Linked DNA regions of Homo sapiens. The protein of the gene in region 5 purifies or fractionates together with the protein of the main gene of each other region. This does not show direct contact. Each region holds a gene or a part of one and is shown on either strand. Other genes may lie near its edges.

Region 1 (4,617 bases), on a different chromosome or scaffold from region 5:
TACATAATGCATTGTCTGTTAGGTAGATTTATCATATAAGTTAGATAGCTCAGAAGTAGAAGTTTCTAGGCTGAGTACAGTGGCTCAAGCCTGTAATCCCAGCACTTTGTGGGGGCCAAGGTGGGTGGATCTTTTGAAGTCAGGAGTTTGAGACCAGCCTGGCCAACGTGGTGAAACCCCACCTCTACTAAAAATACAAAAATTAGCTGGGCCTGGGCTGGGCATGGTGGCTCATGTCTGTAATCCCAGCACTTTGGGAGGCTGAGGCGGGCAGATCACCTGAGGTCAGGAGTTCAAGACCAGCCTGGCCTACATGGTAAAACCCTGTCTCTACTAAAAATACAAAAAATTAGTTGGGCTCGGTGGCGGGAGCCTGTAATCTCAGCTACTCGGAGGCTGAGGCAGGAGAATTGCTTGAACCTGGGAGGCGGAGGTTGTAGTGAGCCGAGATGGTGCCATTGCACTCCAGCCTGGGCAACAAGAGCAAAACTATGTCTCAAAAAAAAAAAAAAAAAAAAAGCCAGGTATGGTGGCAGGCACCTGTAGTCCCAGTTACTTGGTAGGCTGAGGCAGGAGAATCACTTGAACCCGGGAGGCAGAGGGTGCAGTGAGCCGAGATTGCGCCACTGCACTCCAGCCTGGGTGACAGAGTGAGACTCTGTTTCCAAAAAAAAAAGAAATAGAAATTTCTATAATTAGTATATTATTTCATAATCAGAAATAAAATGAATATATAAAAAAGGAAATACAAAAACATAAAAGCAGCTGCTCTCCAACCCACAACCGCCGCTTGGCACAGACCAACCACAAAAGTCCATCTCTACTTGTCCCATCTCGCCAACAACATTAATGGAATTTCAGTTCATGAACCACAGCGAAGCTGTTCCTTCTCCAATCCAAATCCTGGTTTTCTGCTCATCCTCCAGATCCTCTTGTGCCAGTCTATAGCACCCCAGTGCCCCAACCTTCCCCAATACCCAGCACATGTGCTATTCTCTCTGCCCTCTTCCCCTCCCTCTTGGTTCTGTGTTACCTGGGTCTACTTGGCCTCTCTGCACTTTCTTTCTGTTTTATTTTATCTGGATTATGCCCTGTCTTCTGAGACAACCCCGGAATTGGTCTGGGAAAGAAAAAATTCCCTTATACGCCTGAGGAAGGAAAGAATCTGATGAATCAAAACCACAATCCCCTTCAGCAGGTTGTAGAGAGTGGAGAGTGAATGAAGAGGCCTTGAAACTCTTATAGATTAATATTATCTAATTCCCAGCATCACAAAAGATTCTAAGCCAGTGTGGTAGCTCATGTCTGTAATCCCAGCACTCTGGGAAGCCGAGGTGGCGGATGCATCGCTTGAGCCCAGGAGTTTGAGGCCATCCTAGGCAACATGGCGAAACCCCATCTCTCCAAAAAAAAAAAAAAACACCCCACAAAAATTAGCCAGGTGTGGCAGCACACACCTATAGTCCCCACTACTTGGAAAGCTGAGGTAGGAGGATCATCTGAGCTCAGAGGTCAAGGCTGCAGGGAGCTGTGATGGTGCCACTATACTCTAGCCTGGGTAACAGAGTGAGATCCTGTCTCAATTAAAAAATAAAAAGATACTTAGAGAAACTGAAAAATTATACCAAAGACTACAGTATAGTAGGATAAGGGGAGTTTATTTCCATTTGCTTATTTTTATTTTCATATTTTTTTCAATGGCCATGTATTCCTTGATGAATAAAAAAAATTGGTATTTAAAAATGAACAAATGAAATTGGGGAAAGGCTCCTGAATGTAAAAAACCCTTTACAAAGCCTTGACTTTGACCTATAACCTACCCAAATGTTTCTTCTGAGCCGTAAAGAAAAACAAAGATCGCCAGGTACAGTGGCTCACACCTGTAATCCCAGCACTTTGGGAGGCTGAGGCAGGTGGATCACAAGGTCAGGAGATCAAGACCATCCTGGTCAACATGGTGAAACCCCGTCTCTACTAAAAGTACAAAACTAAGCCTGGCTTGGTGGCATGTGCCTGTAATCCCAACTACTTGGGAGGCTGAGGCAGGAGAATTGCTTGAACCCGGGAGGCGGAGGCTGCAGTGAGCCGAGATTGTGCCACTGCACTCCAGCCTGGGTGACAGAGCGAGATTCCGTCTCAAAAAAAAAAAAAAAAAAAAAAAAGCAAAGCAAAACAAAGATCAAATCAACACAAAGAACTCAAATGGAGGATTGAAATTCAAGGAAATTCCTTTGCATACCCTGCAAGTAGGAGTGGGTTGGCTGGCAGCAAAGCATCAAAGGGCTCCTACTCAGTTCATTCTGGAATACTTATTAAAATAATAATTCATGAAGTGAAGCATATAACAAAATTCATGTCAAGCTGTTTTTATTTTCCTCTAGACAAGTAAAATACATATTTAGGTTGAGTGCCTAAAGTCCAGGACAAGGAACAATGAAAAATCCAGGCCTAACTCAAGCAATTCCAAATTTGTTTCACCTGTTCTGGTTGCTCATGTCCAAGAGAAAAGAACAGAGCCTGAAGTTCTATAGAACTGGTTTTAGTTCATAACCTGCCCAACAACAGTCTATAATTAGAAAGCAAGCAAGTTTCCAAGCTGGAAAAAAACTAACGAAGTTACTCTGAGCAGAAATTATTTTCTTCTGTATCTGATAAAATGTATACCACTCCAATGCCCTGGCACTTACCTGTATTTGGAACAAAAGACAGACAGACAGACAGACAGACACACACACACACACCCTCTACAGATTAACAGAAATTCTCAGAAATCTGGGAACCAGTTCTTGCCTGAGATGCTTTTTAGTCAACAGTTGGGCTGTTTATCACAGCAATCACGACAAACCCCAAAGACTTTTAGGACAAAACTTTCCATAAACATGCCACCCATCTTTCATGTAGACAGCTGCCTCTGTGGTCTGCTGGGTGGAGTTTCACTTACTGATAGTCCTAGAGTAAGAAAGAGGGCTGGGTGCGGTGGATCATAACTGTAATCCCAGAACTTTGGGAGGCTGAGGTGGGTGGATCAGCTGAAGCTAGGAGTTTGAGACCAGCCTGGCCAACATGGCGAAACCCCATCTCTACTAAAAACATAAAAATTAGCTGGGCGTGGTGGCGCATGCCTGTAATCCCAGCTGTTCAGGAGGCTGAGACACGAGAATCACTTGAACCTGGGAGGTGGAGGTTGAAGTGAGCTGAGATTGTGCCACTCCAGCGTGGGTGACAGAGCCAGACTCCGTCTCAAAAAAAAAAAAAAGAACGAGGGATGGTGAGAAAGAAGGGAGAAACAGCAGGACCTAGTTTTGCAACTCAAAAACCGTTATGTTTTTCTATTGTGAAATTAAAAATATATTAATACATATGTTTGTATATATTTTAATTATATATATTTAAAATATGAACATGTATTACCCAATTCCAATAAATAATTAATAAATCTTTCCCTATAATAGTTACACATTCTAGAGCAGTCATTTATGGTTATAAAAAGGTTTAGAATCCCATCACAGAAATTTTGTAGCAGTCTTCAAAGATGAATCAGTCTAGTCCAATTATACAGATAACTAAACTGAGGCCCAGAGAAGAAACATATCCAAAGGGATCCAGGAGAGAAACAAGAAAACAAGGGTGCCAGTTGTGGCAGCAACTCACAGTAGAACCCATTCTGTCATGTTAACCGGCTTTAAGGATTTCCCCCACACTCTAAGTAACCTACTATAACCAAGGATCATCCTGGAAAATCCCTCTGCACTCTCATTTCTCTCTGAAACAAGGTGGCTATTAGTGGGTGTGGATACAGGTCCTAAACTTCCCAACGTGATTCAGTAGCTATGTCTATAGTTTTACCACAAGTTACTGAAAGGGGAAAAAAAAATCTCACAAAATTTTAGAGCTAGGAAGGATCTTGCTAACCCACCTCATTTTACACGTAAGCAAGCTAAAGAATATACAAGTTAATAAATTTGTCCAAGGCCACCAATTGCAAAGTTGGCAATAAAAGTTTGCCATAACAGAAATCCTCGGATCAACTCAAGGCCACATTTGGTGACTCCTGTCAGGCTGCAAGGCCAAAAAGAACCACCAAAGAGGCAGCAAAATATTTCCTGAGGAGTACAGGCAGCTTTGCACTGAGTTCCAATTTTCTAGCCGAAAAAGCTATTTTTGAAGTGTGGTTTCTGAGGAAGGCTGACTCACCGAAAAAGTGGGGAACAATATACTCACGGTGGACTTCTCTAAATTGGCGATGTTTCTCTGTGGTCCTTAATCAGCCAGAGGGATCACTGCAAATATGAACCCACCCAACCATTTTCTTTTCATTGTTCTTAAACTAAAAACAGAATTCTTTAAACATTCTACAAGGCTTCGCAGGGTCTGGCCCCTGCCTGCCTCTGCAGCCAGGGCCACTGTATATAGGTGTGGAGTTGGTGCCTGGCTGAGGGGGTAAGTGGGGCCTGGAATCCAGGTCACACACTCCACAAGCCAAGGCCAAAATTTGGCTTTGGCTGTAACTGCTAGGAGAGGAAGAAGTGCCTTAGTAATTAGCATGAGGGAACTCTCAGGGCTAGCAGCTGGCCTACCTGCCAGGTTTGTCACACCATCTCCTGATTGCACCCCCAT
Region 2 (4,617 bases), on a different chromosome or scaffold from region 5:
GTGCAGGTTCAAGTAATTCTCCTGCCTCAGCCTCTGGAGTAGCTGGGATTACAGGCACCCACCACCACGCCCGGCTAATTTTTGTATTTTTAGTAGAGATGGAGTTTCACCATGTTGGACCAGGGTGGTCTCGAACTCCTGACCTCAGGTGACACGCCTGCCTTGGCCCCCAAAGTGCTGGGATTACAGGTGTGAGCCACCATGTCTAGCCTGAATGAATTTCCTTCTTGCTTTCTTTTCACTTTTTTTTTTTGAGACGGAGTGTCACTCTTTTGCCCAGGCTGGAGTGCAGTGGTGCAATCTCAGCTCACCACAACCTCCACCTACTGGGTTCAAGCGATTCTCCTGCCTCAGCCTCCTAAGTAGCTGGGATTACAAGCACGTGCCACCACACCGGGCTAATTTTGTATTTTTAGTAGAGATGGGGTTTCTCCATGTTGGTCAGGCTGGTCTGGAACTCACAACCTCAGGTGATCTGCCCGCCTCGGCCTCCCAAAGTGCTGGGATTGCGCAGGTGAGCCAGCACGCCCGGCCCCTTGCCTTCTCTTCTCTTCTCTTCTCTTTAAGACAGTCTCTCGCTATATTGGCCAAGTTGGTCTTGAACTCCTGGCCTCAAGCAATCCTGCCATCTCAGCTTCTCTAAGTGCTAGGATTACAGGCGTGGATGCTGTGCCTGGCCTGAATTTCAAATTAATTAGTTATCTTTGTGCTTTGGTAGGGAAACTCTGGTAAGGAAAGTATAATATAGTTAGTGCTTAATTTTGAACTATAGAATTAATAGCTTCTAAAACTTTTTGAGTTATTACTAGTGATATGCAAAATACAACCACCTAAAGATCTTTTTGAGCTTATATCTAGGACCTGTTGGGCAATATGCTGAACCTTCATAAGCCTTCATTTCCTTCTTTTTTTTTTTTTTTGAGACCAAGTCTCACTCTGCCACCCAGGCTGGAGTGCAGTGGCGCGATCACGGCTCACTGCAGCTTCTGCCTCCCGGTTCAAGCAATTCTTCTCCCTCAGCCTCTTCAGTAGCTGGGACCACAGGCGTGCGACACCACGCATGGCTAATTTTTTTTTTTTTCTGTATTTTTATAGAGACGGGGCTTTACCATGTTGGCCAGGCTGGTTTTGAACTCCTGACCTCAAGTGATCAGCTTGCCTTGGCCTCCCAAAGTGCTGAGATTGTAAATGTGAGCCACTGAGCCTGGCCATTTCCTTCTTCTTAAAATGGAGCAGTATTATTTACATCAAAGAGTTGTTCTGAGGATTAAATAATATATATATATGTGTATATATATATCTAAATAAAGCTTAGCAGTGGCAAACACTATTATTGATAGACATTGTTTTATTTCCACTTTTGGACTGTTTTGAGTAAAGCTGATAATGAACTTTCTGTTTTTGAGATAGAGTCTTGCAATATTGTCCAGGTTGGTCTTGAACTCCTGGGCCCAAGTAATCCTCCTGCCTCAGCTCTCCAAGTAGCTGGGACTATATGTGCGAGCCACCATGCCCAGCTCAACATTCTTGTATATATGTTTTTTGGTGGACATAGGCATTCATTTCTCTTAGGTGTATACCTAGGAGTAGAATTGCTGGATCACAGATATATTTAATTTTTGTAGATACAGCCAAACAGTTTTTTGAAGTGGCTTTAGTATTTTGTGCTCCTATCAGAATGTGTGAGAATTGCGGTTGCTTCATACCCTGTCCCACAGTTGATATTGTCAGTCTTTAAATTTTAGCCATTCTGATGGGCAGGTAGTGGTATCTTATTGTGGTTTTAATTTAGATTTCCCTGTTAAGTAATGATATGGAAGTACCTTTTAATAGGATTTGTATATCTTTTTCTTACAAAGTGCCTGTTATTTTTTTCTTATGGATTGCTATGTTGATGCTGGATGTGGGTCCTTTGGAAACAGATATTGTGAATACTCTTCCCTAGCCCATGGCTTGCATTTTTACTTATTGAAGTCTTTAAGTGAACAAAGTTTTTAATTTTAATGAAGTCTGTGTTGTCATTTTATTTTCTTTTATGGATAGTACTTTTTTTCTTTGAGACAGGGTCTTTTTTTTTTTAACAACATTTTATTTTATTTATTTTTTATTATTATTATACTTTAAGTTTTAGGGTACATGTGCACAATGTGCAGGTTAGTTACATATGTATACATGTTCCATGCTGGTGTGCTGCACCCATTAACTTGAGACAGGGTCTTATCTGTCACCCAGGTGGGAGTGCAATGGCATGATCTCGGCTCACTGCAACCTCTGCCTCCCAGTTTCAAGTTATTCTCGTGCCTCAGCCTCCCGAGTAGCTAGGACTTACAGGTGCGTGCCACCACACCCAGCTAATTTTTGTATTTGTTGGTAGAGATGGGGTTTCGTCATGTTGGCCAGGCTGGTCTTGAACTCCTGACCTCAAGTGATCCACCCACCTCGGCTTCCCAAAGTGCTGGGATTACAGGGGCGAACCACTGTGCCCTGCCCTTTTATGGTTAGTATTTTTGTGTCCGTTTTTTGTTTTGTTTAGTTTTGTCACCCAGGTTGGAGTACAGTGGTGTGGTCATAGCTCACTGTAACCTCAAACCCCTGGGCTCAAGCAGTCTTCCTGCCTCAGCCTCCCAAGTAGCTAGGACTACAGGTATACACCACTACATATGGCTAATTTTTTAAATTTCATAGCGCTGGGTTTCACCGTTTCCCAGGCTAGTCTGAAACTCCTGGCCTCAAGTAATCTTTCTGCTTTGGTTTCCCAAAGTGCTGTGATTATAGGCATGAGCCATTGAGCCTGGCCCTGTCCCCTGTTTAAGAAGTTTTTGTTTTCCCTATATTCAAAAACATATTTTAAATATTTGACACTGATTTTTTTTCTCTGCATGAACATAGATGATGCCATGGAGAGCAGCAAGCCTGGTCCAGTGCAGGTTGTTTTGGTTCAGAAAGATCAACATTCCTTTGAGCTAGATGAGAAAGCCTTGGCCAGCATCCTCTTGCAGGACCACATCCGAGATCTTGATGTGGTGGTGGTTTCAGTGGCTGGTGCCTTCCGAAAGGGCAAGTCCTTCATTCTGGATTTTATGCTACGATACTTATATTCTCAGGTAAGATAGAATTATTTTATTTCAAGTAAAAAGTGAGACTTTAATGTCCAAAAAAGCGAAATAAGCTCATAGATTATCCTTGATGCATAAAATTTTTAATTTAAGATTTAATAGAAATTTCTTACTTCTGTAGAAGGAAAGTGGCCATTCAAATTGGTTGGGTGACCCAGAAGAACCGTTAACAGGATTTTCCTGGAGAGGGGGATCTGATCCAGAAACCACTGGGATTCAAATCTGGAGTGAAGTTTTCACTGTGGAGAAGCCAGGTGGGAAGAAGGTAAGGATGAAAATGACCTTACAGATTAACAACAACAACAACAAAATATGAACTTCAGCATGTACTGTGTTAACCCAATTAAAAACCTTTTATCAAAGAATTTAAAATGGGTAAAGTAAGAAAAGTTAAAAAGTCCCTGTTTTGTCCTGAAATTTTAGTCTGTTGTGGATAAATAGGATTTTCTGACACAGGTATGCGAAGTTGTAGCTCTGATGTCTAGCTGTAGTCTCCTTGGTCTGCTGATTGCATTATTTTAATTTTCTTTTCTGGAAAAACATTTTTGCTAAAAGCTATACAGACTTTTTTGTTTGTACCTAGCAGTACTTTATGTAGTATTCCTTAGGGCTATGTAGCATTTTTAGACTCAGTTAAAAAATATTAATCTGTTGCTGACTCTGTTAATTCCTATTTCAACATGTGTTTCCTTGAATAATTCAGGATACAACTTACTGTGTATGACAGCTTTCCTTCACACACTATTTTTGTGGGTGTGTGTATATCCAACTTGGGGAGAATTTAAAAAACACATAGCTTTTTAATTTGTTTGAAACAGACCTTCTGCCTGTTACATTTTGTGCTCTTAACCAATTAAAGAAGCCAGTGGCAGCCGGGTGCTGTGGCTCACGTCTGTAATACCAACACTTTGGGAGGCCAGGGTGGGCAGATCACAAGGTCAGGAGTTTGAGACCAGCCTGGCCAACATAGTGAAACCCTGTCTCTACTAAAAATACAAAAAATTAGCTGGGTGTGGTGGTGGGTGCCTGTAATCCCAGCTACTTGGGAGGCTGAGGCAGGAGAAACGCTTGAACCCGGGAGGCAGAGGTTGCAGTGAGCCGAGATCACACCACTGTCCTCCAGCTCGGGCGACAGTACGAGACTCCGTCTCAAAAAAAAAAAAAAAAAGCCAATGGCATTTTTAGTTTCATATTGTGTTTTCCACTGGTATATACCTGTTGATTTGTTTGTGTCTTTTATGAACTGTTATTTTCTGAAATTTTTTTTCAATAAAAGGAAGGAAGATGTGAAAACAACTTTTTATCAAAGTGAATGATTTAAAATTAATACATATTGATTGTTTTTAAGATTCTTAAATAAAATGCATGAATATAGTTTAAAAGGTCAGGTACTACTGTAAGGCTTCTAACAGAAAGCAGCTGTCATGTGTGTTATTCTCCTCTCTACCCAGTTTTCACTTCCCAGAGGCTGATGCTCTTATGTGTTACCACTTCTGTTCTT
Region 3 (4,617 bases), on a different chromosome or scaffold from region 5:
TTGTGAGGATTAAATATGAAAATGCAGGTAATACAGTGCCTAGCACATAGTAAATATGCAGTCAGATTTAGCACCAAATACAGGGCCTGCCACATAAGTAGTACTGGATAATTATTTGTTGAATGAATGATATGAATTATTTCACTAACAATTATCAGTGAAAGACATTGAGGCTTTTTGATAAACCAAAAATTTTGAATTACCAATTAAGGATAGCTCTTATACTCTAGCATTTGAAGCTCACTGAATTTGGATTAAAGAGTACTAGGTTCTAATTCTTGCTGTGCTGTGTCTAGAAGTATGACTTTGAACAAGTAACTTACATAACCTTTCGGGGGCCTCAGTTTTAATATCTGTAAAGTGAGGATGTAAAGTGAAGTAGATGGTCTTCAATTATCATTTAAATAATATGATTCTCTGGCTCTGGTACATTCTAGATTTCTTCCTCAGTTGTCATAATTCTTACAGGTAGTAACTTTTGGGCAATAAGGCATATAGGAATTATGCTACAAGAACTCCAGTGTCTAATTCTGGCAAATTCCTGTTTTAGCATGACCTTAGATGACTAGTCTAATTGGTTCAGCATCTTCCTTTGTTAATGTGATGATCATTATTTTGCCCTGCTTTGTATGTTGCAGTAAATAAAGTGCTGTGTAAATGCTAATTATTAGTGATTATCAACTGAATTATTTAATCTAGCGTGAGAGATGTAAAGGGCTATGGAAGTTCAGGATATTTGTCACTGACCAAAGTCTATGATTAGTGTATGTTTTTAGATTGTAATTAAAGAAGACCGGTATAGTTAGACCAAGAAGTTTAAAGGCCTTTCTTGCAGCTTTCAAAAGTGAAAACCTTTTAAAATTGTCTTATTTATGAATAAATCTTTAAAAATATAATCCATTTCATTGCAGTGAAATAAATAAATAAAAACATAAACCATTTCAGTAAAATGCATCAGTGTCTAGTTTTATTTATTTATCTTTTTTTTTTTTTTTTTAATTTTTTGAGACAGAGTCTCACTCTGTTGCCCAGGCTGGAGTGCAGTGGCGCGATCTCGGCTCACTGCAACCTCCACCTCCAGGGTTCAAGCGACTCTCCTGCCTCAGCCTTCCGAGTAGCTGGGATTACAGGCGTGTGCCACCACGCCCAGCTAATTTTTTGTATTTTTACTAGAGATGGGGTTTCACCATGTTGGCCAGGCTGGTCTCTCAAACTCCTGGCTTCAAGTGATCCGCCTGCGTTGGCCTCTCAAAGTGCTGGGATTTACAGGCCTGAGCCACCACACACAGCCGATTGTCTAGTTTTAAATACGTGTATCTGCATATTCTTCCTTTCTAAGGTAAAAACAGTGCTTTAATTATATTCTGCCTTAAGTTGTTTGGGAAAATAGGCAAAAGAAACAATGAAAGAATTAGTGGTTTTCTGTTTGTTTTTGCTATTTTATGGTATATTATGTAACAGCTTGTAATGAAGCCTTTATCATATTATAGTTGGTTGCTGAGTAATTAAGTTATGATAGACTCTCATAGTTTGGGGAAGAAAATCAGATCCCTGCCTCTCACATACCTAGTGTAGTGAAGATAGTTTTTTGTGTTTTAGTATCCAGATTGGCAGGATGCAAGGAAATAAGCATATAGTTTGGTGAAGTACATGTAAATTGTTACAGCCTTTCTGGAAGGCAGTTGGCAATATGTAACAGACCTAGAACTGCCCTAGCAATCTTGTTTTTAGGAATTCTTTTTTTTTTTTTTTTTTTTTTTTTTTGAGACAGAGTCTCGCTCTGTCGCCCAGGCTGGAGTGCAGTGGCGCAATCTCGGCTCACTGCAAGCTCTGCCTCCCGGGTTCACGCCATTCTCCTGCCTCAGCCTCCCGAGTAGCTGGGATTACGGGCGCCTGCTACCACGCCCGGCTAATTTTTTGTATTTTTTAGTACAGACGGGGTTTCACCATGTTAGCCAGGATGGCCTCAATCTCCTGACCTGGTGATCTGCCCACCTCGGCCTCCCAAAGTGCTGGGATTACAGGCGTGAGCCACCCGTGCCCGGCCCTTTTTTTTTTTTTTTTTTTTTTTTAAAGACAGAGTCTCACCGTGTTGCCCAGGCTGGAGTGCAATGGCACGATCTCGGGTCACTGCAACCTCCACCTCCCGGGTTCAAGCGATTCTCCTGCCTCAGCCTCCCAAGTAGCTGGGATTACAGGTGCCTGCCACCACGCCCGGCTAATTTTTTGTATTATTAGTAAAGACGGAGTTTCACTATATTGGCCAGGCTGGTCTCGAACTCCTGACCTCGTGATCCGCCCGCCTTGGCTTCCCAAAATACTGAGATTACAGGCGTGAGCCACGGAACCCAGCTGGAATTTATCCTTTTTTAAAAATGTGCAAAAATAACTACACAGATGTTCATTATAGCACAGTTTATGATAGTGGCAGATATCTCGGTGTCTTAACAATTAGAGATTGGTTGAGTATATTATGGTATAACTGTGCAATCGAATATTACACAGTCATTGAAGTTGTTAAAGTTTTGTTTTTTTTTTTTTTAAGAAATGGAAAAATATAGAAAAGTACAAAGGCAGCCTACACCCATATCTTCTCTATATGTAGAATTAACTTATGTTAATTGTTAGCATTGGTAGTCATATTTGCTTCCAAACTAAAGGACTCTTTGATTACCACCTGGCCACGCCCTCCATCTCCCCTTCCCCAGACGTAACACCGTCATGGACCTGGTACATCCTTCCAGTTTATTTTAAATAAATGTGTTTGTATTGTTTTATGCTTTTTAACCATTCATTCATGTTATCATGTTTGTTGTATAACGTTTTCCATTCAACATTAGGTTTTTAAACTTCTTTCATGTTGGAATTTATATAATTTATTCATTTTAACAGCTATGTAGTAATCCATTATATGAATATATTATTTTCTTTTGGTAAGGATTTAGATTCTTTCCTATTTTTTGCTATTATAGACAGCGCTGAAGTTAACATTCTTCTTTTTTTTTTTCCTTTTTCTTTTTCTTTTTTGAGATGGAGGAGTTTCACTCTGTCGCCCAGGCTGGAGTGCAGTGGTGCAATCTCCGCTCACTGCAAGCTCCGCCTCCCGGGTTCATGCCATTCTCCCGCCTCAGCCTCCTGAGTAGCTGGGACTACAGGCGCCTGCTACCACGCCCAGCTAATTTTATTTTTGTATTTTTAGTAGAGTCGGGGTTTCACTGTGTTAGCCAGGATGGTCTCAATCTCCTGGCCTCGTGATCCGCCCGCCTCGGCCTCCCAAAGTGCTGGAATTACAGGCATGAGCCACCGCGCCCGGCCTTAAGTTAACGTTGTTATACTTGTCTGTTTTTACACATATGTGACTATTTCCCCAGCGTTAGGGTGCTACTGCTTATCAGTTTCACTTCTAGCTCTGTGCCTTATTTTTCTAGTTACTGTCAAAGTTAGTGTCTTCTGTTATGTAAAAATGTTCGTAATTTATTAGTAAAAACTACATTGTTCAGCACCCAGCAGATGGTGGGTGCTAAAGTGGAATGAAAAGAGTTACCAAACAAGGAATACAAAATAATTCCTATCTTGGTATCATTTAAAGTGAATCTATGCTAGAAAGATTCCATAAAGAAAAAAAATGAATCTATATACCTACATATACAGGGAATCTGAAGTAATTTTTAAAAGCAATGTCAGAATGGTTTTCTTTTCTTATGGCCAAGTAGGCTTTTACTGGACCTGACCTTCCTGCATATAACTGGACAAAATTTTTAAAAAACAAAGACCCGAAGGCACTGGAGGATGAACGGGAGCAGTCAGATTCTGAAAGAGAGTTGACACATGTAAGAAGAGACAGCATGAAATTAGTTTTTTATTTTTACTGCTTTTAGCTAGAGGACAGGCTGAAGTGGGCACCTGACAGGCTGGCTTAAACCTTCATAGAAAACCTAAGCAGTGGACAGCATTTGGGTCAGCCACAACCACTGAGTCAGTGGAATGTAAGGGGAGGAGGAATCTTGGAAGGGAGAGATCCAGAGAGTGACAGCCTAAAATTCTGTAGATAAAATAAACTGTGTTTAAGCCTCTGTTTAATTGTAAACCACACTTAACACAAAAGATTATAAGCAGCACAACTAGAGATGAAAGAAGTGAACTGGGCCGGGTGCAATGGCCCACGCCTGTAATCCCAGCACTTTGGGAGGCCAAGGCGGGTGGATCACGAGATCAGGAGTTCAAGACCAGCCTGGTCAAGCTGGTGAAACCCCATCTCTACTAAAAATACAAAAATTAGCCGGGCACATTGGCAGGCGCCTGTAATCCCACCTACTCAGGTGGCTGAGGCAGGAGAATCGCTTGAACCCCTGGGGGTGGAGGTTGCAGTGAGCCAAGATCATGCCATTGCACTACAGCCTGGGTGACAGAGTAAGACTCCGTCTGAAAAAAAAAAAAAAAAAGAAGAAGTGAGCCGAGTTTGTAGTTTGAAGGCCAGGCACAGTGGCTCATGCCTGTAATCCCAGTACTTCAGGAGGCTGAAGCAGGTGGATCACTTGAGCCCAAGAGTTCAAGGCCAGCCTGGGCAGCATGGTGAAACCCCATCTCCACTAAAAAATACAAAATTAAGCCAGGCAT
Region 4 (4,617 bases), on a different chromosome or scaffold from region 5:
ATGATAACTTTGTGCACTTAGTACATGCCAAACACTTTAAGACATTATCTTTATTACTATTATTATTTTTTTTAGCAACAGAGTCTCACTATGTCGCCCAGGCTCAGCTCCATCCTGCAGCCTCAGCCTCCCAAAGTGCTGGGATTAAAGGCACGAGCCACCGCACACAGCCAAGACATTATCTTTTAATCTTAGAACTTTTCAGGTAGGTTTTTTTTTAGGTTTTAAGAAACTAAAACTTATTTGTAGAGATCTGAACCTAGCTTCTAAGCTTGCTTTTCTTCTACCACGCTACTAGGCACTGAAACAGATGCCCACTCTCCGACAATAAAAAGAGATACGAATAAACAATCAATATATGATTAACAATTTAAGGCCGGGCGCGGTGGCTCATGCCTATAATCTCAGCACTTTGGGAGGCCAAGGCGGGCAGATCACGAGGTCAGGAGATCGAGAACATCCTGGCTAACACGGTGAAACCCCGTCTCTATTAAAAATACAAAAAAAAATTAGCCGGGCATGGTGGCGGGCGCCTGTAGTCCCAGTTACTACAGAGGCTGAGGCAGGAGAATACCATGAACCCGGAAGGCGGAGCTTGCAGTGAGCCACTGCACTCCAGCCCGGGGAACAGAGCAAGAATCCATCTCAAAAAAAAAAAAAAAAAAAAAACCGCCCATTTAAAACAACTTTTTTTTTTTTTTTGAGACGGAGTTTCACTCTTTTCACCCAGGCTGGAGTGCAATGGCGCGATCTCGGCTCACTGCCACCTCCGCCTCCAGGGTTCAAGTGATTCTCCAGCCTCAGCCTCTGGAGTAGCTGGGATTACAGGCGCTTGCCACCATGCCCAGCTAATTTTTGTATTTTTAGTAGAGATGGGGTTTCACCATGTTGTCCGGGCTGGTCTCGAACTTCTGACCTCAGGTGATCCTCCCACCTTGGCCTCCTAAAGTGCTGGGATTACAAACGTAAACCACCACGCCCGGCCTAAAACAACTTTTTTTTTTTTTTGAGGAGTCTCGCTCTCTCTCCCAGTCTGGAGTGCAGTGGCGCAATCTCGGCTCACTGCAAGCTCCACCTTCCGGGTTCACACCATTCTCCTGCCTCAGGCTCCCCAACAGCTGGGACTACAGGCGCCTGCCACCACGCCCGGCTAATTTTTTGTATTTTTAGTAGAGATGGGGTTTCACTGTGTTAGCCAGGATGGCCTCTATCTCCTGACCTCATGATCCACCCACCTCAGCCTCCCAAAGTGCTGGCATTACAGGCGTAAGCCACCGCACCTGGACTCTAAAATAAGGACTTTTTTTTTTTTTTTTTAATTTGAGACGGAGTTTCACTCTTGTTGCCCAGGCTGGAGCGCAATGGTGCAATCTCAGTTCACCTCAACCTCCACCTCCCAGGTTCAAGCGATTCTCCTGCCTCAGCCTCCCTAGTAGCTGGGATTACAGGCATGTGCCACCACGCCCGGCTAATTTTGTATTTTTAGTAGAGGCGGGGTTTCTCCATGTTGGTCAGGCTGGTCTCGAACTCCCCACCTCAGGTGATCCGCCCGCCTTGGCCTCCCAAAGTGCTGGGATTACAGGCATGAGCCACTGCACCCAGCCATAACAACTTTTTAAAAGCACTCCAATAGCATGCCTAAAGACTAAGACTACCACTAATAAGTTCAAAAAAATTGCCAATTTATTTAAGAAAAACATGAAAGAAACCAACACACACAATTCTCACCAAAAAAATACAAAATTAAAAAGCAAATATGAAAAATAATTTCCTGCATGCAAACAGGCTTTTACAAAACAATAAAAGAAATACTGGGAAATGCTCAAAAAATATTAAAAAGCAATTAATAAAAAGAAGTCAGAGCTGGGCACAGTAACTAACGCCTGTAATCCCAGCACTGAGAGGTGGAGGTTGGAGGATCGCTTAACCCCAGGAGTTCGAGACTAGCCTGGGCAACATAGTGATACCTCATCTCTAAAAAAGTAAATAAACTAATTCACATTTTCAATTTCCATATCACTATTCCAACATCAACTACAATCAAAAAATTGCAAATTAAACTGTAATATGCCCATTTTTACCTATATGTTGGCATTTATTTTTAATTAACACCCACTGTGAACAAAGATACTTGCAAACAAGCACAAACCTAACCCTGATGAATAAATGGGTAAAACCTTTCTGAATGGATCTAGCTTTTTCTTGAAAATGTACATGTCAGGCCAGGTGCAGTGCCTCACACCTGTAATCCCAGCACTTTGGGAGGCCAAGGTGGGTGGATCACCTGAGGTCAGGAGTTCAAGACCAGCCTGACCAACATAGTGAAACCCCCATCTCTACTAAAAATACAAAATTAGCTGGGCGTGGTGGCACATGCCTGTAATCCCAGCTACTTGGGAGGCAGAGGCACGAGAATCAGTTGAACTCAGAAGGTAGAGTGAGCCGAGACTGCTCTACTGCACTCCAGCCTGGGCGACAGAGTAAGACTCTGTCTCAAAGAAAAAATAAATAAATTTTTTTAGTAGAGACGGGGTTTCACTATGTTGGTCAGGCTGGTCTCGAACTCCTGACTTTGTCATCCACCCGCCTTAGCCTCCCAAAGTGCTGGGATTACAGTCGTGAGCCACCATGCTCGGCCAATTTTTTTTTTTTAATTAGCCAGGCATGGTGGCACACACCTGTAAGTCCCAGCTACTCAGGAGACTAAGGCAGGAGGTTCACTTGAGCCCAGAAGGTGGAGGCTGCATATTTGAGACCCTATCTCAAAAATAAGTACATAAATAAAAAATAAAAATTAAAGTGCTGATAAAAAGAAAACAGCAATTTATGAAGATGCTATTAATAGCCATCTTGAAAAAATTCTAAGAACAGGGGTGTTTTCCCGTCAAAACTCCTCTCGGATTTGTCATTAAAAAAAATCAAAGCCGGGCGCGGTGGCTCACGCCAGTAATCCCAGCACTTTGGGAAGCCGAGGCAGGTGGATCACGAGGTCAGGAGATTGAGACCATCCTGGCTAACACGGTGAAACCCCGTCTCTACTAAAAAAAATACAAAAAATTAGCCGGGCGAGGTGGCGGGCGCCTGTAGTCCCAGGTACTCGGGAGGCTCAGGCAGAAGAATGGCGTGAACCCCGGGGGGCGGAGCCTGCAGTGAGCCGAGATCCCGCCACTGCACTCCAACCTGGGCGACAGCGAGACTCCGTCAAAAAAAAAAAAAAAAAAAAAGAAAGAAAATCAAGACCGGGCGGTCGCTCACACCTGTAATCCCAGCACTTTGGGGGCCGAGGTGGGTGGATCACCTGAGGTCAGGAGTTTGAAACCAGCCTGGTCTGTCTCTACTAAAAATACAAAAATTAGCCGGGCACGGTGGCGGGCACCTGTAATCTCAGCTGCTCGGGAGGCTAAGGCAAGAGAATCACTTGAACCTGGGAGGCGGAGGTTACAGTGAGCCAAGATCGCGCCACTGCGCTCCAGCCTGGGAGACAGAGTGAGACTCTGTCCCAAAAAAAAAAAAAAAAAAAAAAAAAAAAAAAAAATCAACCCAGCCAGCACAGTGGCTCATGCCTGTAATCCCAGCACTTTGGGAGCCCAAGGCGGGCGGATCACTTGTGGTCAGAAGTTTGAGACCAGCCTGACCAACGTGGTAAGACCCGTCTCTACTAAAAAATACAAAAATTAGGCGTGGTAGCGGGTGCCTGTAGTCCCAGCTACTTGGGAGGCTGGGGCAGAAGAATCTCTTGAACCCAGAGGTGGAGGTTGCAGTGAGCCAAGACTGTGCCACTGCACTCCAGCCTGAGTGACAGAGCAAGACTCGATCTCAAAACGAAACAAAACAAAACAAAACAAAAAAATCAACCCCTGGCCCAGCAGGGTAGTGCAAGCCTGTAGACCTAGCTACATAGTAAGCTGAAATGGCGGGGGTGGGGGGTGCACCCCAGAAGTTCAAGGTTGCAGCGAGCTATGATTGAGCCACTGCACTCCAGCCTGTGCAACAAGGCTAGCCCCTATCTCGGGGGGGAAAAAAATAAGGAAAAAAATACAAAAAGATAAAAAAGATTAGGAAATGGCAAAAATCAACTCCCCCATTCTGATAAAGGTGAAATTAAACCAACTTTTGGCATCCCACAAATTCATTCACTGAAATTTTTAAAAAGCTCTCCATTTACCATGCCAACTTTCCTCCTTTGAGGAGTTTCTTTATAGAAGGCTTTCAAATTTCTAAATGGCATTTATAGGGTTTATCTCTTTAATTAAAAAAAAAAAAAAGAAAGAAAGAAATGGCTGGGTGTGGTGGCTGATGCCTGTAATCCCAACACTTGGGAGGCAGAGATGGAAGGATCACTTGAGTCCAGAAGTTTGAGACTAACCTGGACAACACAGGGAGACCACATCTCCACAAAAAATTTTAAAAACTAGCCAGGTGTGGTAGCACACTCCTGTAGTCTTAGTTACTGAAGAGGCTGATTCAGGAAGATTACTTGAGCCAGGGAGGTCAAAACCGCGGTGATCACGCCACTGCACTCCAGCCTTGGCAACAGGGCAAGACCTCGTTTCAAAAAACATAGAAACAAAACAAAATTTTTAAAAAAATTACTGTAAGTTTGCTAGGGTAGATATT
Region 5 (4,617 bases):
AATTTTAATAAAATATCAAAAGCATAAAATATTTAGATATAAATTTAACAACAGATTTGCAAGACCTCTAGAGTAAACACTACAAAACACTGCTCAGAGAAATTAAAGAAGATCTAAAGGGAGAGATATACCATATTCATGAAATAGAAAAATAATGTTAAGATGTCAGTTCTCCCCAAATTGATTTATAGATTCAACACAATCCCAGTCATAATCCTAGCAGGCTTGTTTAGTAGAAATTGATAAATTGGTCCTAAATTTCATAGGAAATGCAAAGGAACCAGAATATTAAAAAAGAAAAAGTTGGAAGACCGCACTACTTAAGAGGTACCATAATGCTACATTAATCAATATTAGTGTGGTACTGGTACTGGATTGACAAACAGTTCAGTAACATAATACAAAGCCCAAAAATATACCTAAAATATATGGGTATTTGCTTTGTAGACAAAGGTGCCAAAGCACTCCAACAGGGAAAAGGAAGTCTTTCCAACAAATTATGGTGGAATACAGTAGATATAGGTATGGAAAAAATACTGAACTTACCAAACAAACAGTAATTCAAGTTGGATCATTGCCTAAAATGTAAAATCTAAAACCATAAAGCATTTAGCCTAAAGCATGAGAAAACAAGTAGATAAAGGTTTCTTAGGGAACAGTAATAACTATGAAAGAAAAAAATTGATAAATTAGACTTCATAAAAATTTAAAACTTCTGCTTCTCAAATGATACCGTTAAGAAAATAAATAGGCAGCCAACAGACTGGGAGAAAATATGATCATGTTTAAACTCTTACCTTGAACTCATCTGAGATTTCAGACACAAAAGAAGATATCTGCTTCATGAGCCGGTCCACACTGCTCTCACTTCCTGTTTTGAGGAGTGTAGTAATGGCTAAGGTAGCAATGCTTCTGTTTGAGTCTGTGATTAAGTTTTCTAAGTCCAGATTGCAGGCAGTAACAGCAGAGGGGTGCTTCATTGCCACCTTGTGGAAGGGCAAGAAAAAAAATTAAGCAAATTGCTTTTGATAAAGGCCAGAACTTAAATTTTAATTGAGGTAAGTGGCAATCCAAAGAGGACAGGATAAGTTAAAAGTAATTGCTTCAAAAACAAAAAGAATGGCTCCAGTTAACAAGGTATATCTTTTAATAAATGATCAACGGCCAGAGTATAGCATCGTACTCTCTTTTGTTAGGTTCCTCTAACCTTTCTAACATTACCATTTTTAAAAAATTATAATTGGCCTGTATTTCCTTATAGTACGTGTGTTCATATACGTCTATTCTATTAGATGTTAGGAGTACTGACAACAGGATCTAGCATAGTAGTCAGTGCTCGACAAAGACTGTTAATATCTTATCAGTTAAAAAATACTGCTGCATTTCAAGACGCAAACTCCAGCCAAACTGCATTATCTATGGTTACTACATGGTCTGCCATTCTCCTGCATCCTTGTTTTTGTTGATGTTGTCCCACCTCTTTGTCTATCCCAATATTGGTATGGAATCCCTTACCCACAATTTGGAAAATCTGAAAACACTCTGGAAAGCAGAGCACTGGGATGAAAATCCATTTAACAGCAAAACATGACCCAAACTAATGCGAAACTCTTTAATTCTTAATTTATACCACTTGACAAGGATAGTCATATGTTTTGTGCAAAAATATTAATGTTTTTTAATGGTGGGATGCTGCCCCAGGCCCACTGGGGTTAGTAAATAAGAGATAACACCATATAACCTTTCTAAAATTTAACTAAAAGCAAATTCTGAGACACATCTGGCCCCAAGATTAGAGATGAGGGATTGTAGACCTGTATCAACTCTTTAAAAACAATTTAGGCCAGGCTTGGTGGCTCATACCTGCAATCCCAGCACTCTGGGAGGCCGAGGTGGGCAGATCACCTGAGGTCACGAGTTTGAGAGCAGCCTGGCCAACATGGCGAAACCCTGTCTCTACTAAAAATACAAAAATTAGCCGGACGTGGTGGCAGGTGCCTGTGATCCCTGCTATTTGGGAGGCTGAGGCATGAGAATCGCTTGAACCTGGGAGGCGGAGGTTGCAGTGTGCCAAGATCGTGCCACTGCACTCTAGCCTGGGAGACAAAGTGAGACTCTGTCTCCAAAAAAAATAAATAAATAAAAAACCATTTAAATTGTTGTTCTATAAAGGTTTCTTCCATGGCTGCTCTAAACTTCTCTTTTCTTCGACTGTTTACACAATTAATTTATAATTATGTATTGCCTATGACAAGTCTTCTATTACATTTAACTTTCATTTACATTTTCTATGCTTATTTAATTTATTCTGTGTTTCTGTATTATATCCTCTAAATCTATACTGTCTAATAACATAGCCAACAGCAACATGTGACTACCAGGCATTTGAAAGGTGGCTAATCCAAACTGAGTATGCTGTAAATGTAAATATACTGGATGTCAAAAACTTGAGATATGTAAAAATATCTATTACATGTTGAGATGACATATTATATGTATTATGATAAAATATACTATTAAAATTAATTTTACCTTAAAAATTTTAATGTGGTTATTATGAAATTTAATATTACATATGTGATTCACAGTGGGTTTCTACTGGACAGGGCTGCTGTAGACCAGCACTGTGCAAGAGAACTTTCTTCAATGACAGAAATGTTCAAGATCTGCACTGTCCAACAGCCACTGACCACATGTGGCTGTGAGTACAAGAAGTGTGACTCATGTGACTGAGGGTTGAATTTTTTATTTTAATTAATTTAAATTGAAATAGCCACTGGTGGCTAATGGCCACCATATTGGACAGTGTGGCTCTTGAATATAAAATGCTTAGAAGTCAGAAATGAGTTATAATCTTCAGCTAAATAATAATAAAAATGAGCATACTCAAGGCCACAAATACAAGTGAAGTGTTGTAGAGGTGAAGCCCATAAATCACATATACTAACCTTGGAGAGAAAACCAAATGCTTCACATTTAATGTTTCTCAATTAAATACTGATATAAGTCAATAATTAGCAAAGAAACACCTACCTTGTTCAAGGTCCTCACAGCTGCATATCTCAAGGCTGGCTTAGGAGAACTACAGAAAAGTTGAAGAACTAAAAAAAAATAATAATAATAATATGTAACATTAAGTAATATTACATATACATACCGTGAATACTCCTGGCTTAAGAGAACTATAGAAAAGTTGAAGAAGTAAAATACAGATATAGATACAGTGACTATTACCTATATATGCTGTGAATATTCCTTATCTCATCATATACCATATAGCTGAAAATATAGTACATAATGAATCACATTCAAAATATGCATACATTTTATCACAGCATCAAAAATTTACATGAAAAATGTAACATCAAAATAGAAAAAGCACTTTTGGGGCGCCTGTAGTCCCAGCTACTCGGGAGGCTGAGGCAGAAGCATGGCGTGAACCCAGGAGGCAGAGCTTGCAGTGAGCCGAGCTATCGTGCCACTGCACTCCTGCCTCAGTGACAGAGTGAGACTCCGTCTCAAAAAAAAAAAAAAAAAAGAAAAAAAAAAAAGAAAAAGCACTTTTGGTCAGTTATAAAAACTTAAATAAGAAACAAAGTTTGCTCTTTTTAAAAAAAAATTAGAATACCCATTAATACCTGAACTAAATGGTAGAAATATTGACAGTTCTGAAAACAAATGGGCTTTTTAAACACCAAGGAAAACTGTAAAATGTTTTCAAAAGTTTCATACGAGGAAACAGAAACTTTAAAAAAAAGCAATAAAGAACTATTATTAATAAACTATGTACATATAAATAAAATTCTTTCAAAAGTTTTATATGGAGAAATAGAAACATTAAAAAAAGTAATAAAGTAAGGAACAACTAAAATAAACTATCTACATATAAGCTATCAGAATGCAAAGGCTATATATACACAGAGCTAGTGTTCAGAAAACATTCTTAATACCTATTCTGTAGACCTATGAAACTTAAAGCAAAAACTTAGGAACATAAAAGCCAGCCATCAAATATAAAACAAACCTGAAACAGCAGGTGCCAACTCTCTTGCAGTGCAGTTAGGAAGATGGATGATAGCTGAAGCAGCTTCATAAATAACCATTTCATGTTTATTTCGCAAGCAGCTCTCAATGAAATCAAACAGTGGACTTTCATGGCTGCCAATAAATATTTATAGGCCATTATTTAGATATCAAATAGAGAGGCAATATGCATAGGGATTAAAAGCACAGGCAGATTGAGAGGCACTTCTGGAATGGTGGATGAGGGATTTCTAAAAATTCATTTCATCACAAAGCAATTAGAACACTGGCAAAATTGTCAAAATCAACTTTTGCAGAACTCTAAAAAATTAATCAAAGATTTGCAACAATCCTGAACATCTATTTAAGAAAAGTAGCTGAATCTTAGTAAAAATGGTGAAGTTTCTGGTGTTTTAACCTACTCATTCTCAATTTCCATGCACCTCTTCCCAGTTCCATAGCAGTCTTGGAAACCAGCAGCCTCAGAACCACAGTAACTGTGAATGCCAGCAGCCTAGCTACAAAAGCAGCTCTGGGCCAAAATCTCATCCCCAGAGAACTGTCACTATGTGACCTGTCTGGTGCTCCTAGAAA

Evidence for each region.
Region 1: the proteins of COPG2 (region 5) and ARL6IP5 purify together in Homo sapiens (affinity purification with mass spectrometry; one large-scale study listed by BioGRID and IntAct). This does not show direct contact.
Region 2: the proteins of COPG2 (region 5) and ATL3 purify together in Homo sapiens (affinity purification with mass spectrometry, with the first as the bait; one large-scale study listed by BioGRID). This does not show direct contact.
Region 3: the proteins of COPG2 (region 5) and RTN3 purify together in Homo sapiens (affinity purification with mass spectrometry; one large-scale study listed by BioGRID and IntAct). This does not show direct contact.
Region 4: the proteins of COPG2 (region 5) and ATL2 purify together in Homo sapiens (affinity purification with mass spectrometry; one large-scale study listed by BioGRID and IntAct). This does not show direct contact.

What each region holds. Positions count from the first base shown.
Region 1 is NC_000003.12:69,094,143-69,098,759, reverse strand, and holds part of ARL6IP5 (PRA1 family protein 3), read right to left. Parts: intron 1-4,617. UniProt on the Homo sapiens protein: Regulates intracellular concentrations of taurine and glutamate. Negatively modulates SLC1A1/EAAC1 glutamate transport activity by decreasing its affinity for glutamate in a PKC activity-dependent manner.
Region 2 is NC_000011.10:63,657,525-63,662,141, reverse strand, and holds part of ATL3 (atlastin-3), read left to right. Parts: intron 1-2,889; coding exon 2,890-3,104; intron 3,105-3,179; exon of another isoform or gene 3,180-3,237; coding exon 3,238-3,381; intron 3,382-4,617. UniProt on the Homo sapiens protein: Atlastin-3 (ATL3) is a membrane-anchored GTPase that mediates the GTP-dependent fusion of endoplasmic reticulum (ER) membranes, maintaining the continuous ER network. It facilitates the formation of three-way junctions where ER tubules intersect.
Region 3 is NC_000011.10:63,722,437-63,727,053, forward strand, and holds part of RTN3 (reticulon-3), read left to right. Parts: intron 1-3,713; coding exon of another isoform or gene 3,714-3,730; exon of another isoform or gene 3,731-4,617. UniProt on the Homo sapiens protein: May be involved in membrane trafficking in the early secretory pathway. Inhibits BACE1 activity and amyloid precursor protein processing. May induce caspase-8 cascade and apoptosis.
Region 4 is NC_000002.12:38,366,948-38,371,564, forward strand, and holds part of ATL2 (atlastin-2), read right to left. Parts: intron 1-4,617. UniProt on the Homo sapiens protein: Atlastin-2 (ATL2) is a membrane-anchored GTPase that mediates the GTP-dependent fusion of endoplasmic reticulum (ER) membranes, maintaining the continuous ER network. It facilitates the formation of three-way junctions where ER tubules intersect.
Region 5 is NC_000007.14:130,560,236-130,564,852, forward strand, and holds part of COPG2 (coatomer subunit gamma-2), read right to left. Parts: intron 4,159-4,617; coding exon 4,025-4,158; intron 3,102-4,024; coding exon 3,034-3,101; intron 987-3,033; coding exon 798-986; intron 1-797. UniProt on the Homo sapiens protein: The coatomer is a cytosolic protein complex that binds to dilysine motifs and reversibly associates with Golgi non-clathrin-coated vesicles, which further mediate biosynthetic protein transport from the ER, via the Golgi up to the trans Golgi network.